4 linked regions of the Homo sapiens genome follow. The protein of the gene in region 1 purifies or fractionates together with the protein of each later gene. This does not show direct contact. Each region holds a gene or a part of one and is shown in the gene's direction. Other genes may lie near its edges.

Region 1 (3,500 bases):
ATGGGCTTCCCCTCAGACATTGGTCTGGTCCATCAGGCTCTGTCTCCTGGAGCCGGGGTGGTTGAGCCTAATGTGCAATGGAGTCTGTCTACACTGGTTGAAACCAGTGTGTGATGTAGGCAGTGCATCTACGCTGGTTGAAACTAGTGGGCGGTGTAGGCGGTGCGTCTACGCTGGTTGAGCTAGTGCACAAAGCAGGCACTGTAACACTGGTTGAGCCCCTAGTTCATGATGCAGGCCATCTGTTTATACTGGTGGATCTCAGCACACCATTCACGCCATCTGTCTACACTGGTCGAACCAGTGCATTCTGCAAGTCATTCTGTCTAAACTGGTACCTGGCTGGATTAGGTGTGGGAGGGGATGTGGTAAGGAGTGGTCAGGATGGTTACCCATGGGACGCTATTGGGAGTTGTCTACTCCCTGAGACAGGGCTGCCCCCTGGAGTGCTAAGCACCTGTCCACTCTGGCTGAGTCACATCCTCCTAGGACTGGGTGGCCAGGCTGCTGGTTGTGTGGCCCCACTGTGCTCTGAGCCCTTGGTTCTTCCACTGCCTTCCTCTCTTGTCTGCTCACCATTCAGCCCTAGCACGTCCAGGGCACTCGGCAAGTGACAGCCCAGTGCCCATAGCTCCATGGTGGGGACAAGCTGCTCGACGGCCAGACCCATGGTCCTGGCCCAACTTTTGCCTCCTGACTCATTGAGGATGGGCCTCCACTGGGGGAATGGAGCTGACCACCCACTGTGGCTCGGATGCCCACTTCCCTCCGGAGCTGAGTGCTGCCCAGTGGTGGTCTCCATGTGTGTTTCATCCACTTAGCTTCCTGGACCCCTAGAGTTCCTTCACCTGCCACCTGCCTGATGTAACCTGGCAGCTGGCTGGCACCTGCCCCAGAAAGAATCCTCTCTTATACCCTTTTCTTGCTCTCAGCCCTCTCTCCTTTTCCTCCTCCCCAAGGGAGCCAGTCTCTACCTGTTGCACCCTCTGGGAGGGGCTCTGCCCAAGGCTGGGAGCTCCGCAGTGCCCTCTGATGTTGGTGAATTTCCTGTGGCTGTCTGCAGCACAGGTCGGGCCCTGGGTTCCCTGCAGACATCGGCCCTATCTACCAGGCTCTGTCCTCCAGAGCTGGGGAGCAGGGAAGCAGGTCTGTGAGTCACCCCATTTCCCGTTGTGCCCATGCTGCTGGCTGCAGGCCCTGAGCTGAGTGGCCACCGAGCTGCAGGCAACAGCCCAGGTCGCTGTCACCTTGTCCTCACTGTCTGGGCCTGAGCCAGCTCCTCCCTGACTGGGCCAGACTCGGGGACAGGAGGGAAGAGAGCTAAGCAGAGGATGCTAGGAGCTGCACATTACTCCTTGGTCCCCTAGGCCCCCTCCCAGGGCTGATTCCTTGCCCAGAGGGCGGCCTCTCCAGATGAGCCTTCCTGGGCTGGCCTGGCCACTCCATTCTGTCTGTTGCCTTCACCACTGTGGACCCCTGGACATGCCCAGATGCTTATCAGTGGGAAGCTGACACAGGAGAGCCCCTCTGCCAGCAGCCCCTAGCCCGGGCACAGACTGACTCGCACTTGGCAGACAAGTCGTCCCCACCTTCGAGGCTGCCTTTTTGGGGGCTGACTCATCTCTTGGGACAAGACTCATCAGCCTAGGCTTGCAGCACTGAGACCCTCCTCCAGCCTTGAGCTGCAGGAGCTTTGCTTCCTGTGCCGCATCCAGGCACCCAGCAAACACTGACCCTGACCTGCCATATGCAGAGCCTCGTACACCTGGCCCTGGAGAAGTTGAGCAAACACAAGCAGGTTACAGTGTTGGTGCAGATGCTGCTCTTTCTGGTTGTGTTGGCCAGGAGGAGCTCGGCATGGAGAAGGTACTGAGCGATTGCTTGTGGGCAGGCAGAGTGCATTAAACTGTGCAGTCTGTCTACTTCAGCATAGCCGGTGCGTGGGGAAGGCAGTCTGTCTACACTGGCTGGGCCAGTGTGTGGTGCAGGCAGTCTGTCTACACTGGTGGGGCCAGTGCATGGGGCAGGCAGTCCGCCTACACTGACGGAGCCAGCACGTGGGTCAGGCAGTCTGTCCACACTGGTGGGGCCAGTGCGTGGGGAAGGCAGTCTGTCTACACTGGCTGGGCCAGTGTGTGGTGCAGGCAGTCTGTCTACACTGGTGGGGCCAGTGCATGGGGCAAGCAGTCCGTCTACGATGACGGAGCCAGCACGTGGGTCAGGCAGTCTGTCTACACTGGTGGGGCCAGTGCGTGGTACAGGCAGTCTGTCTAACTGACGGAGCCAGTGCATGGGTCAGGCAGTCTATCTACACTGGCTAAGACAGAGTGTGGGGCAGGCAGTCTGTCTACACTTGGTTGAGTCTAGGGCATGAGCACTAGAACATTCCATGTAGTCTGTGCTTGCCCCACTCTCTGTGGGGTCTTTGCACAAGGTTCAGAGCTCTCAAACTCTGTAGATTCAGTGGCTTTTCCTGTGGCTGAGCTCAGCCTGGGTCCGGGCTTCCCCTCAGATGTTGGCCACGTCCATCAGGCTCTGTCTCCCAGAGCTGGGGTGGTCAAGCCCAGTGTGCAATGCAGTCTGTCTACACTAGTTGGAATCAGTATGTGATATAGGCAGGCTGTCTACACTGATTGAGCCAGTGCAAAAAGCCGGCGCTGTCTATGCTGGTTGGGCTCAGCATGTGATTCAGCAATCTGCCCACACAGGTTGAGCTGGGGCAGCCAGCCTCTCTCTGGCTTGCTGAGGCCAGAGCTCTTGGTTCTTTCTGACACCTTCCCTTTTTCCTATGTGATTCTTTCTCCCGGGAATATTCCTCCTTACACCTCCTATAGACATCTGGGTCTGATTTGATTCTGACTTCCAAAGACTCAGCTTTCGTGTGTCTGTTTGAATCTCCTTGGCAGAGGCTGACATGGGCTGGGAGTGGCACTGGGATCGCACGTGGATTTCCCCTCCCTGTTGCTGTGCCTGGGGCTGGGCCTGTGCTGGTGCAGAGGCTACCTGCTGTCAGTGGTCATCACTACCTTGCCATCCCTCGCGACAGCCACTCACACGCCTCTTTCTCACAAAAGTCATTTAGCGAGGATTACCACCTTGGTGTGCGTGGTAAATTGCATTTCTCCTGGTTGGGGCCATCTTGCTGTTTCCTGCTTAGATTTGGGGCCTCATGAGGTTTGGCCTCATCTGCAAATTTAATTTCATGACCATTCATCCCTGTGAAAGCACAATCTATGCCTATTATTTCACTCTTCTTGATTCCCTCTTCCACGAGTTAATGTGTCAGCGCACAGCCATGGCAACCACTCCCCGCCCTCCCTCCACCCCAGGCAGCCACCTCTAGGTTGCGGCTGAAGCTGGGACCTGGAGTCAGACCACCTGGGTTCAATCCTAGCCTTACCACTCGGTCACTGTGTGGGCTAGGGACCCAGTTTCCTCATCCACAAAACGGGGTTAACAAGAGAATCCACCTCCTAGAGCTGTTGTGCCTAAGAGTCCAC
Region 2 (4,052 bases), on another chromosome or scaffold:
TGTCACCCAGGCTGGGGTGCAGTGGCGCGATCTCGGCTCACTGCAAGCTCCGCCTCCGGGGTTCACGCCATTCTCCTGCCTCAGCCTCCTGAGTAGCTGGGACTACAGGCGCCCGCCACCACGCTCAGCTAATTTTTTGTGTTTTTAGTAGAGACGGGGTTTCACCGTGTTAGCCAGGATGGTCTCGATCTCCTGACCTCATGATCCGCCCGCCTCGGCCTCCCAAAGTGCTGGGATTACAGGCGTGAGCCACCGCGCCCGGCCAACGCCACAACTGTTAACAGTGTGCCATAGTTGCTTATCTGCATACACATATGTGCGTGTAATGATTTACTTTTTTGCAGAATGAATTACAGACATCATGACAGGTCACCTTTACCAAAGAGTTCTGCAGTTATTTCTAAAAATAAAGAATATTTTTCTACTTCAGGGTATGTCAAACTGTGGCCCTAGGCCAAATGCAGCCTCCCCGTTTTTTTTTTTGTTGTTGTTTTTTGAGACAGAGTCTCACTCTGTCGCCCAGGCTGGAGTGCAGCGGCGCAATCTCGACTCACTGCAACCTCCGCCTCCCGGATTCAAGCAATTCTCCTGCCTCAGCCTCCTGAGTAGCTGGGATTACAAGCGCCCGCCACTACGCCTGGCTAATTTTTGTATTTTTAGTAGAGACAGGGTTTCACCATGTTGGTCAGGCTGGTCTCAAACTCCTGACCTCGTGATCCACCCGCCTCAGCCTCCCAAAGTGCTGGAATTACAGGCGTGAGCCACCGCGCCCGGCACACCCCTGGTTTTAAAAATAAAGTTTCGAGCCGAGAGTGGTGGCGCCCGTGGTCCCAGCTCCTCGGGAGGCTGAGGCTGGGGGATCCCTGGAGCCCGCGAGGCAAAGGCTGCAGTGAGCCGAGATCGCGCCTTGCACTCCAGCGTGGGTAACAGAGCGAGACCCTGTCTCAGGAAAAAAATACAAGTGGGGTTATAAATAAAATGAGATTAAAAAACAACAGATCTTTGCCTCAGAATCCCGACCCACCGCAGCCCCAGCGAGGCGCAGGCGCAGGCGCAGGCGCGCGCTCGCTGGTTCCGCCCATGCGCACAGGCAGGGAGCGCGCGCCCCCTCTGTAGCCTTCGGCCTCCGGGGGCTGCAGTTGCGCGGCTCGGCCACTGCGCGGCGGTGGCGTGCGCCTGGGCGGTGTCGCGGGCTGTGACGTCACGCCACGCGCCGGGGCCAGGAGGAGGCGGGCGCAGGAGGCGCGTGCTCAGTGTGCTGGGTACCAGGCGACTCCGGGACAGGGGGTCTCGGCCGTCGGCGTCATGGTTTCGCGCGTGCAGCTCCCGCCTGAGATCCAGCTGGCTCAGCGCCTGGCGGGGAATGAGCAGGTGACCCGGGACCGGGCGGTGAGGAAGCTCCGGAAATACATCGTCGCCAGGACTCAGCGGGCCGCAGGTTGGCGGGGGTGTGGGCGGCTGGCGTCTCGGGGGCCGGCTGGGCTGGTGCGGGTGTGGGCGGCGGCGGCCGGAGCTGGGGGCCCTCCGAGCCCTGTGGAACCTCCACGTGGCCGGGCCGGGCAGGCGGGGTCCACTGGCCTGTTCCCGCTGTTACCGGCCCACGGCCCCCGCCGCCGCTTTCCCTCGTGGTGCGGTGACTCTGGTCCCTCTGCGAGAACGCTCCTCCCCAGCCCCGTAACCCCTTTCCTAGCTCAGGCGTCCCCTCCCTCCAGTAGACCATGTACTCCTGCTGCCCTGCTGTTTGGGCACCCAGTATTTTTCCCTCATGGCAGCATTTCCCACTGTTTGCAGTTTTCTGTTTTGCGTTAATTATTGGATTGTTTTCCGATTTCCACTCGAGAGTACCTCTCTGAGGGCCGAGAATCTACTTCTTGTTCATGGTACCAGGTGGTTCTCCGAGCGTGGTCCCCCATCAGCAGTAGCATCCCCTGGACATTTGTTAGAAATACACGTTCTATGCCGGGCGCAGTGGCCCAAGCCTGTAATCCCAGCTACTTGGCACGTCGATGTGGGAGGATCACAAAGGCCCAGGAGTCCAGCCTGGGCAACATAGCAAGACTCCATTTCCATCGCAAAAGAAAAGAAAGAAATGCAAGTTCTAGGATCCCAGCCCTACTAAATCAGGACTGGCATCTGCTTTATGAAGCTGTTCAAGTGCTTCTGCTCCCCACACTCAGCCTGAGAACCACTGCTGCAGGAACAGGTTGCCAGACACATAGGACTTCAGTGAATGTCAACTGAGTAATGTTTTAAATTAAAATTTTTTGTTATTTTTCTGAGTGAGACAGACCTCACTGTCATCCGTGGTGGAGGAGTGCATTGGCACGATTACAGCTCACTGCAGCCTCTACCTCCCAGGCTCAAGTGAGCCTCCCATCTCAGCCTCCCCAATAGCTGGGACTACTGGCACCGTGCGGCCAGGCCAGCTAAGTTTTGTATTTTTTGTACAAATTGGGGTCTTCCTATGTTGCCCAGACTGGTCTTGAACTCCTGGCCTCAAGTGATCCTGCCTCAGCACTCAATTCCAAAGTGCTGGGAGTACAGGCGTGAGCCACCGCACCTGGCCTCAGTAATTTCTGTTTCTCTCGTAGTCTGAATGCCTGAGTTCACTTTCTTCTTTTAGTATTTGAGATATATTACAGGAGAGTGCAGAAGCCCTCAGTATAATGCTGGATGAATTATCACCAACAGATTAACCTTGTGGCCACTGTCCAGCTTAGGAAACCGTCAAGGTTCGCAATTTTGAATTTCCAAAATGGAGTATGGTGCCTGATACCTTGTAGATCTCAGTCGGTTTTACTGTGTGCGTGAAGTAGCAGTTACCTGGAGTAGCCGCATAGCCACAGGCGCGGCAGGTTCTGGGTTAGAAGGATTGTTTGAAGGGGAGGGCCAGATTCTGCCCCCCAGTTGCCTTTACCGTAAGTGGGACTTTGGTCTCATTCAGGCAGTCACGTTTCTGTGGCTTCCTTTCTGGCACTCGAAGGTGTGGGATTCATTTGGTCCAACCGTTGCTGTTTTGATGCAGGTGGTTTTACGCACGACGAGCTGCTGAAGGTGTGGAAAGGACTGTTTTATTGCATGTGGATGCAGGACAAGCCACTCCTCCAGGTGAGTGGGGGGAGCAGCAGAGCAGGTACAGAAGCAGCGGGGGAGGATGGATGGGCATCTGGTCAACCCAGTTTTTCTTTTTTTTTTAAGTCGGAGTTTCGCTCTTGTTGCCCAGGCTGGAGTGCAGTGGCTCAATCTCGGCTTACTGCAACCTCAGCCTTCTGGTTTCAAGCAATTTTCCTGCCTCAGCCTCCCAAGTAGCTGGGAGTACAGGTACCTGCCACCATGCCTGGCTAATTTTTTGTATTTTTAGTAGAGACAGAGTTTCATCATGTTGGTCAGGCTGGTCTCGAACTCCTGAGCTCAAGTGATCCTCCCATCTCGGCCTCCCAAAGTGCTGGGATTACAGGCATGAGCCACCGCGCCCGGCCTGGTCAACCCAGTTTTAATATGGCCAGAGACCGTGGGGAGGTCGTATAGCCTTGACGCTTGGTTCGGCACGGCTGGTGGGCCTGGGCCTTTGTTAGGTGAGTCTTACACTTGCTGAGGTGTTGATGTGATTGACTGAGCCGTGCACTGCAGCAGCACTGGCATGGGTGAAAACTGGGTTTTGTGTTTGTCCTGGGTTGCAAACAAGTGCTGAAATAGTGGAAACCACGGGGCGGAATTCAAGTCTCCTGAGACAAGGACGTCTCCTGCTAGCCTTTTCCAAACATTGTTTCTCAAATTGTGAATTTTGTGCTCTCCTTCAAAATCTCCTGGGTGGTGAGGGTACTTAGTTAAGTTCAGGTTCCTGGGCCATATTCCATGCCCACTGAATTATCAAGGGGAGGCTGTGAAATGTCCCTTAGCAAGTATTCTGGGCGATGGCTGGCACGGTGATGTAGGCAGATAGCCAGTGATCTATGGGGTCTCGCAGCCCTCTTCCTCCTGATGGTTAGGGGGCTGTGAGTCCCAAGGCTCCCTTCCGCTCTCCCACGTCCCTCTTTAACCGTGACTCTGTG
Region 3 (4,054 bases), on another chromosome or scaffold:
CTCAAGTTCTTTATGAAAGTTCATTGTAATTATTCTATTATATAAAAGTTTCGAAATTCTGTTGATAAAATGTATTTTTAGTAGAGACGGGGGTTTCACCTTGTTGGCCCAACTGGTCTCGAATTTCTAACCTCAGATGATCCACCAGCCTTGGCCGCCCAAAGTGTTAGCATTACAGGCGTGAGCCACCGCGCCCGCCTGGCCTTGATAAAAACAGTTTTAACCTTCCGTTGCTTCGATTCCATGCCCACTAAGTAACATTCCAGTTTGTTTTTCACTTTCAAAAGGATGTGCTGTAACTAGGGGATGTAAACAAGCTCCATGACCCTACTTATTCCAAGTTTTCGTTCCACTCTCCCACCTTTTTTTTAAGACAAGGTATCACCCTCGGTCGCCCAGGCTGGAGCGCGATCACTGCTTAATGCATCCTCGACCTCCTGGGTTCAAGCGATTCTCCTGCCTCAGCCTCCCAAGTAGCTGGGACTACATGCGCACACCACCACACCGGTTAATTTTTTGTAGAGACGGGGGTTTCACCATGTTGCCCAGGCTGGTCCCGAACTCCTGGGCTCAAGGGATCCGCCCGCCTCAGCCTCCCAGAGTGCTGGGATTACAGGTGCCAGCCACCGCGCCCGGCCCCAGCTTCTTAAAAGAATGATCCGAAACTATGGCAGCACTGGGCTTTTGGTCCCCACCCAAGAAATGCCCGCTCGCAGAGGCTCGCCGCGGCAGGCTCTCCCGACGTGACAGAGTGTGGGTCTGGATTCAGCCTCGGTTCTTACGAGTCAGATAGGTGGACACGCAAAGCAAAACATCACAGGGCTTTTTGTATTTAGCACAGAAAACACTTGTGAGCCCGAGCTGAGAACCCAAAAGGCACGCTTCAGGCCATCGTAGCCACCAAGCCTGGTCAGATTCCGTCCACCGTCTCCTTGGTGCTCCGAGACCCAAATCGCTGACTGGGGCCGAGGGCGGGCGTGACTGCGCAGGCGTGCCTCCCCTGCGAGATGCCGGAGGTAAGCTGCGGGGTAAGGGGCGAGAAATTAAGGGCGAACGTCATTGCGCATGCGCCCTCTACTCTCGTTGCGGGGGTAGGCGGGCGCCGGGCTGTGTGAGGGGGCGGGGCGCGGCAGTGTTCGGTACGGATGGAGTTGCAGGAGACGGCGAGTACATATCACTGCGCAGGCGTCCTCTTCCCCTAACTCTCAGGGTCGCTAGGGTGGCGCGCAGGCGCAGAGCGATGCGCAAATGTGCGCAGGCGCTTAGGGGCTGAGGCGCGATGGCAGGTGTCGGGGCTGGGCCTCTGCGGGCGATGGGGCGGCAGGCCCTGCTGCTTCTCGCGCTGTGCGCCACAGGCGCCCAGGGGCTCTACTTCCACATCGGCGAGACCGAGAAGCGCTGTTTCATCGAGGAAATCCCCGACGAGACCATGGTCATCGGTCAGGCGGGCTGAGGGTGGGGAGGCCCTTTGTACCCAGCTCAGCCCTCGGCGGCGCTCCCTCCTCCCGAGCCCAGCCGGGTCGCTGGCTCCCCCAGTACCTAGCCTGAGGGTGCCCCGAGGACGCCAGGCCCCCTGCCTAGAGCTCCGGGCCGCACGTCGGAGGGGGCCGGGCGGAGAGGCGGCCCACTAGGGCCGGTCGTGACTATGTGTCTGCCCCGCAGGCAACTATCGTACCCAGATGTGGGATAAGCAGAAGGAGGTCTTCCTGCCCTCGACCCCTGGCCTGGGCATGCACGTGGAAGTGAAGGACCCCGACGGCAAGGTAAGGCTGGCGTTGGCCCACGCAGCCGTTCTTCAGTGGAGCTCCCGTGGGGTGTAAAGCACTGCCTGGAGGAGGCCTCAAGGGACAGGAACTTGCACTTGGAGAGCCTGCGGTATAAAGGTGGGGCCTTCACTCACATATGTTGCAGGTGGTGCTGTCCCGGCAGTACGGCTCGGAGGGCCGCTTCACGTTCACCTCCCACACGCCCGGTGACCATCAAATCTGTCTGCACTCCAATTCTACCAGGATGGCTCTCTTCGCTGGTGGCAAACTGGTAAGAGGATTTTCTCTTTGGCTTCAGCTTAGAATCTCTCACTTGTTTCCAAATTTTGATTTATCAAGATTGTGAAACTTTGTAGCACAGTCAGAATTGGGGAGACAGATGTTGCCTTCTGCTCCACAGCCAGGGACAATAGTGGGTTCCATACCCTGGAACAGACAACTGGAGGCCCCACCACTCATACATTCCATGTTTCCTTGTAGCGGGTGCATCTCGACATCCAGGTTGGGGAGCATGCCAACAACTACCCTGAGATTGCTGCAAAAGATAAGCTGACGGAGCTACAGCTCCGCGCCCGCCAGTTGCTTGATCAGGTGGAACAGATTCAGAAGGAGCAGGATTACCAAAGGGCAAGTGCATATCTCCTTGTAATTTGAGAGGGCAGTTGACCTTTATACCCACTATACCTACTCAAGTTTCTGCTTGGGAGATCAGCTCTGCAGAGAATGGAATGAGAAGTATTGGTTTAGATAGGTTGTTTGTTTGTTGTTTTTGAGACGGAGTTTCACTCTTGTTGCCCATGCTGGAGTGCAATGCCATGATCTTGGCTCACTGCAACCTCCGCCTCCCCAGGTTCAAGCGATTCTCCTGCCTCAGCCTCCTGAGTAGCTGGGATTACAGGCATGCGCCACCATGCCTGGCTAATTTTGTACTTTTAGTAGAGACGGGGGTTTCTCCACGTTGGTCAGGCTGGTCTCGAACTCCCGACATCAAGTGATCCGCCCGCCTCAGCCTCCCAAAGTGCTGGGATTACAGGTGTGAGCTACCGCGCCCTGCCTGTTTTGCTTTTTTATCAAAACATTTTATTGTGGTAAAATATAACACCAAATGTGTCATTTTAACTGTCTATATAGTTCAGTGGTATTAAGTGCCTTCATAATGTTGTGCTACCAACACCATCATCCAGCTCCAGAACTTTTTCATCTTCTCAAACTAAAAATCTGTACTTATTTTGTTTTGTTTTTGAGATGGAGTCTCGCTCTGTTGCCCAGGCTGGAGCGCAGTGGCGCCATCTCGGCTCACTGCACCCTCCGCCTCCCAGGTTCAAGCGATTCTCCTGCCTCAGCCTCCCAAGTAGCTGGGATTACAGGCAAGTGCCACCATGCGTGGCTCATTTTTGTGTTTTTAGTAGAGACTGGGTTTCACCATGTTGGCCAGGCTGGTCTTGAACTCCTGGCCTCAGGCAATCCACTGCCGCAGCCTCCCAAAGTGTTGGGATTACAGGCGTGAGCCACTGCACCCAGCAAATCTGTACTTATTATAAACAATAACTTCCCGTTTCCTTTTGTCCTGACACCCACCATTCTACTTTCTGTCTCTATGATCCTGACTACCCTATCTCATATAAGTGGAATCATTCAGTATTTGTCCTTTTGTGACTGGCTTATTTCACTGAGTATAATGTTCTCACAGTTCATCCATGTTATAGCATGTGTCAGAATTTCTTAAGGCTAATATTCCATTGTATGCATGTGCCACATTTCGCTTTCAGTAGTCATTTTTAAGCTCTATAAAATAAAATGAAGAAAGGACAGTTCACAATCTAGTAATAGCCATTGCCTACCTGTTTTTCTTGGACTCTTGTTGGAAATGGTAGGATCATGATTTCAGTCCTAACAGAGATGCTTGTGGAGGGACAGCCTGTCCCTTTCTTGGGGCAGCCTCAGTGGGGAGACCATAGCACTCCTAATGGAGTCACAGATAGTATTCCAAAAGGAGTTTGGTCCTGGAGTTGAGTAATTACACGCAGGGAGGGACCTCACAACAGCCAGACTGTTTCTCCTGCTCACTTAACCCTGTGTTGCCCCACACAGTATCGTGAAGAGCGCTTCCGACTGACGAGCGAGAGCACCAACCAGAGGGTCCTATGGTGGTCCATTGCTCAGACTGTCATCCTCATCCTCACTGGCATCTGGCAGATGCGTCACCTCAAGAGCTTCTTTGAGGCCAAGAAGCTGGTGTAGTGCCCTCTTTGTATGACCCTTCCTTTTTACCTCATTTATTTGGTACT
Region 4 (2,214 bases), on another chromosome or scaffold:
GAATGTGTGTTTATGAAGCAGACAGGGTACTTGGGAACACAGAGGGCAGACTATAATCATCTCACATTGTCAACCCTGGGTGGGCACAAGAAAAGTGGTAAGAAAGCCTGAGCTCCTTTTCTGGGAATGCTTGGAAATAGTAGTTTGCACTGGCCCCAAGAACAGGCGCAGTGGTCTCTGAAGCCTGAGACTCTGAGTCTCACTGCAAGACTTTACCTAAAGGAGACACAGCTGTAGAGTTCTTGACATACGCTGCAGACAGCACTCCTGGAGTTGAGAGATGAGATCCAACCTCACCCAGCCCCTTCAGTCGGGGCCAGGTGTGGTGGCTCACACCTGTAATCCCAACACTTTGGGAGGCTGAGGCGGGCGGATCACTTGAGTCCAGGAGATCTAGACCAGTCTGGCCAACATAGTGAAACCCCGTCTCTAGAAAAAAAACAAAAATTAGCCAGGTGTGGTGCTGTACGCCTGTGGTCCCAGTTACTCACAGGCTGAGATGGGAGGATCCCTTGAACCTAGGAGGTGGAGGCTGCAAGGAGCCCAGATCTCACCACTGCACTCCAGCCTGGTTGACAGAGCAAGCCCCTGTTTCAAAGAAACCAACAGCAACCCCCACCCCCGCTAAATTCCAGCTAGGTTCAGTCCTAGGTCAGACTCCATGTAACTTTGGTCTTGCTTTCAGACAATGGCTTTGGCCACAGCCGTCTTGTGAAGGAAAACCTGATTGACTACTTCATCCCCTTCCTGCCTTTGGAGTACCGTCACGTGAGGCTGTGTGCACGGGATGCCTTCCTGAGCCAGGAGCTCCTGTATAAAGAAGAGACACTGGATGAAATAGCCCAGATGATGGTGTATGTCCCCAAGGAGGAACAACTCTTTTCTTCCCAGGGCTGCAAGTCTATTTCCCAGAGGATTAACTACTTCCTGTCATGAAGGCTAGAGGAAGACTTCCTGGAACTGCCTTTCTTCCACTAACAGGACCCTGGGACCTGTAGGAGCACCCCGTTTGGGACTGTGAGGTGTTTGAGGGTGTGGACTGGCATCCAGCAGCCACTAACAAACACACAACTGGTGTGTAAAAGGCAGGCCTTACATTAGAAGCCAAGCCAATCCTTTTTCTTTTTTTTGGAGGTCCCACCGAGATAGATAGGAACTTGGATTGCTGAATTCAAAAACAGAGCCCATTCTTAAGATCACTTGGTGCCTTAAAGACACGCATTCCAAAGTGGAATGTGGTTGAAGAAAGTGGGCCAGGTGGTTGAAGAAAGCCATGTGGGAGCTCAGCAAATCCCAAGGGCTTATTATGACACTCCAGATGGTCTCCTTAGCATCTCAGCTCTTCTGCAAGGAAGAGCTTGGGTGTTAGGCCTCAGAGGCTGTAGGGTCCTTGGGTTACAGAGCCGGGGAGAACGAAGTTCTGTGACCCAGGGGTGGAGAATACACTCTAGGTTTGCAGGCTGGTGGGCTTTCAAATTGGTACTTCCAGAGGAAAGCCAAGCTGCTTCTGTTGTGAGCGAATCAGCCAAGAGCCTGAGGCTGAAGGGAAAAGTACACAGAGGAAGATATTTTACAAACCAGGTCAGTGTAGGCCAAGACTTATGGTCTACAGATTTTGGCGGGGGAGGGGGGACCTTTTCAAAGACAATAGGGGGTCTTGACATGTTTGTTGTATGTAAAGATGATAAGATTAAAATTTTTGATTTTCCTAAAATCCTTGGCGTACTTTCTGTTTCTGAGACCTAGCAAAATTTCAAACAAACACTGGGTAATCCTGATAAGGCCTGGCAGAGACAGGGCAGATGCTGGCACACACGGAGCTGGCAGGGTATGTGACTGGTCTGCCTGTCTAGTCTGTTTGCTTTGGGACCACATCAGTGAAGCCAAGTCATGCCAACCTCCTACTGAAGAGACTCCCATAGCACATTGCTCTTATATATGAAAATGTTCACTCCTGTACTCTCAGCTATAAAAAGAAAAGCAGTCATTCTGAGGATTAAATGGCACCGTGTAGACATGTAGCACTGTGCCTAGACACAGTGTTCATTATGTGCCTTTCCCCTTTTCTTGGTTCTTCTCCCATGCCTCTGGAATAACACAGGTCTTTTTTCCCTATGTTTTTTATATATTAATTATACACACATATAGAGTCAGGGTGTCACTATGTTGCCCAGGCTGGTCTGGAACTCCTGGGCTCAAGCTATCTTCCTGCCT

What was found. Proteins that work in one complex are often made in the same cells at the same time.
Region 2: the proteins of CHST8 (region 1) and RRP1 purify together in Homo sapiens (affinity purification with mass spectrometry; 3 studies listed by BioGRID and IntAct, with this or other methods). This does not show direct contact.
Region 3: the proteins of CHST8 (region 1) and TMED4 purify together in Homo sapiens (affinity purification with mass spectrometry; 4 studies listed by BioGRID and IntAct, with this or other methods). This does not show direct contact.
Region 4: the proteins of CHST8 (region 1) and TOR3A purify together in Homo sapiens (affinity purification with mass spectrometry; 3 studies listed by BioGRID and IntAct, with this or other methods). This does not show direct contact.

What each region holds. Positions count from the first base shown.
Region 1 is NC_000019.10:33,628,453-33,631,952, forward strand, and holds part of CHST8 (carbohydrate sulfotransferase 8), read left to right. Parts: intron 1-3,500. UniProt on the Homo sapiens protein: Catalyzes the transfer of sulfate to position 4 of non-reducing N-acetylgalactosamine (GalNAc) residues in both N-glycans and O-glycans.
Region 2 is NC_000021.9:43,788,325-43,792,376, forward strand, and holds the start of RRP1 (ribosomal RNA processing protein 1 homolog A), read left to right. Parts: upstream 1-1,252; 5' UTR 1,253-1,305; coding exon 1,306-1,438; intron 1,439-3,025; coding exon 3,026-3,108; intron 3,109-4,052. UniProt on the Homo sapiens protein: Plays a critical role in the generation of 28S rRNA.
Region 3 is NC_000007.14:44,579,432-44,583,485, reverse strand, and holds the start of TMED4 (transmembrane emp24 domain-containing protein 4 isoform 1 precursor), read left to right. Parts: upstream 1-1,254; 5' UTR 1,255-1,279; coding exon 1,280-1,439; exon of another isoform or gene 1,440-1,662; coding exon 1,663-1,763; intron 1,764-1,911; coding exon 1,912-2,037; intron 2,038-2,246; coding exon 2,247-2,393; coding exon of another isoform or gene 2,394-2,420; exon of another isoform or gene 2,421-3,589; intron 3,590-3,857; coding exon 3,858-4,007; 3' UTR 4,008-4,054. UniProt on the Homo sapiens protein: Involved in vesicular protein trafficking, mainly in the early secretory pathway. targeting. Involved in the maintenance of the Golgi apparatus. Appears to play a role in the biosynthesis of secreted cargo including processing.
Region 4 is NC_000001.11:179,094,283-179,096,496, forward strand, and holds the end of TOR3A (torsin-3A precursor), read left to right. Parts: intron 1-685; coding exon 686-936; 3' UTR 937-1,714; downstream 1,715-2,214.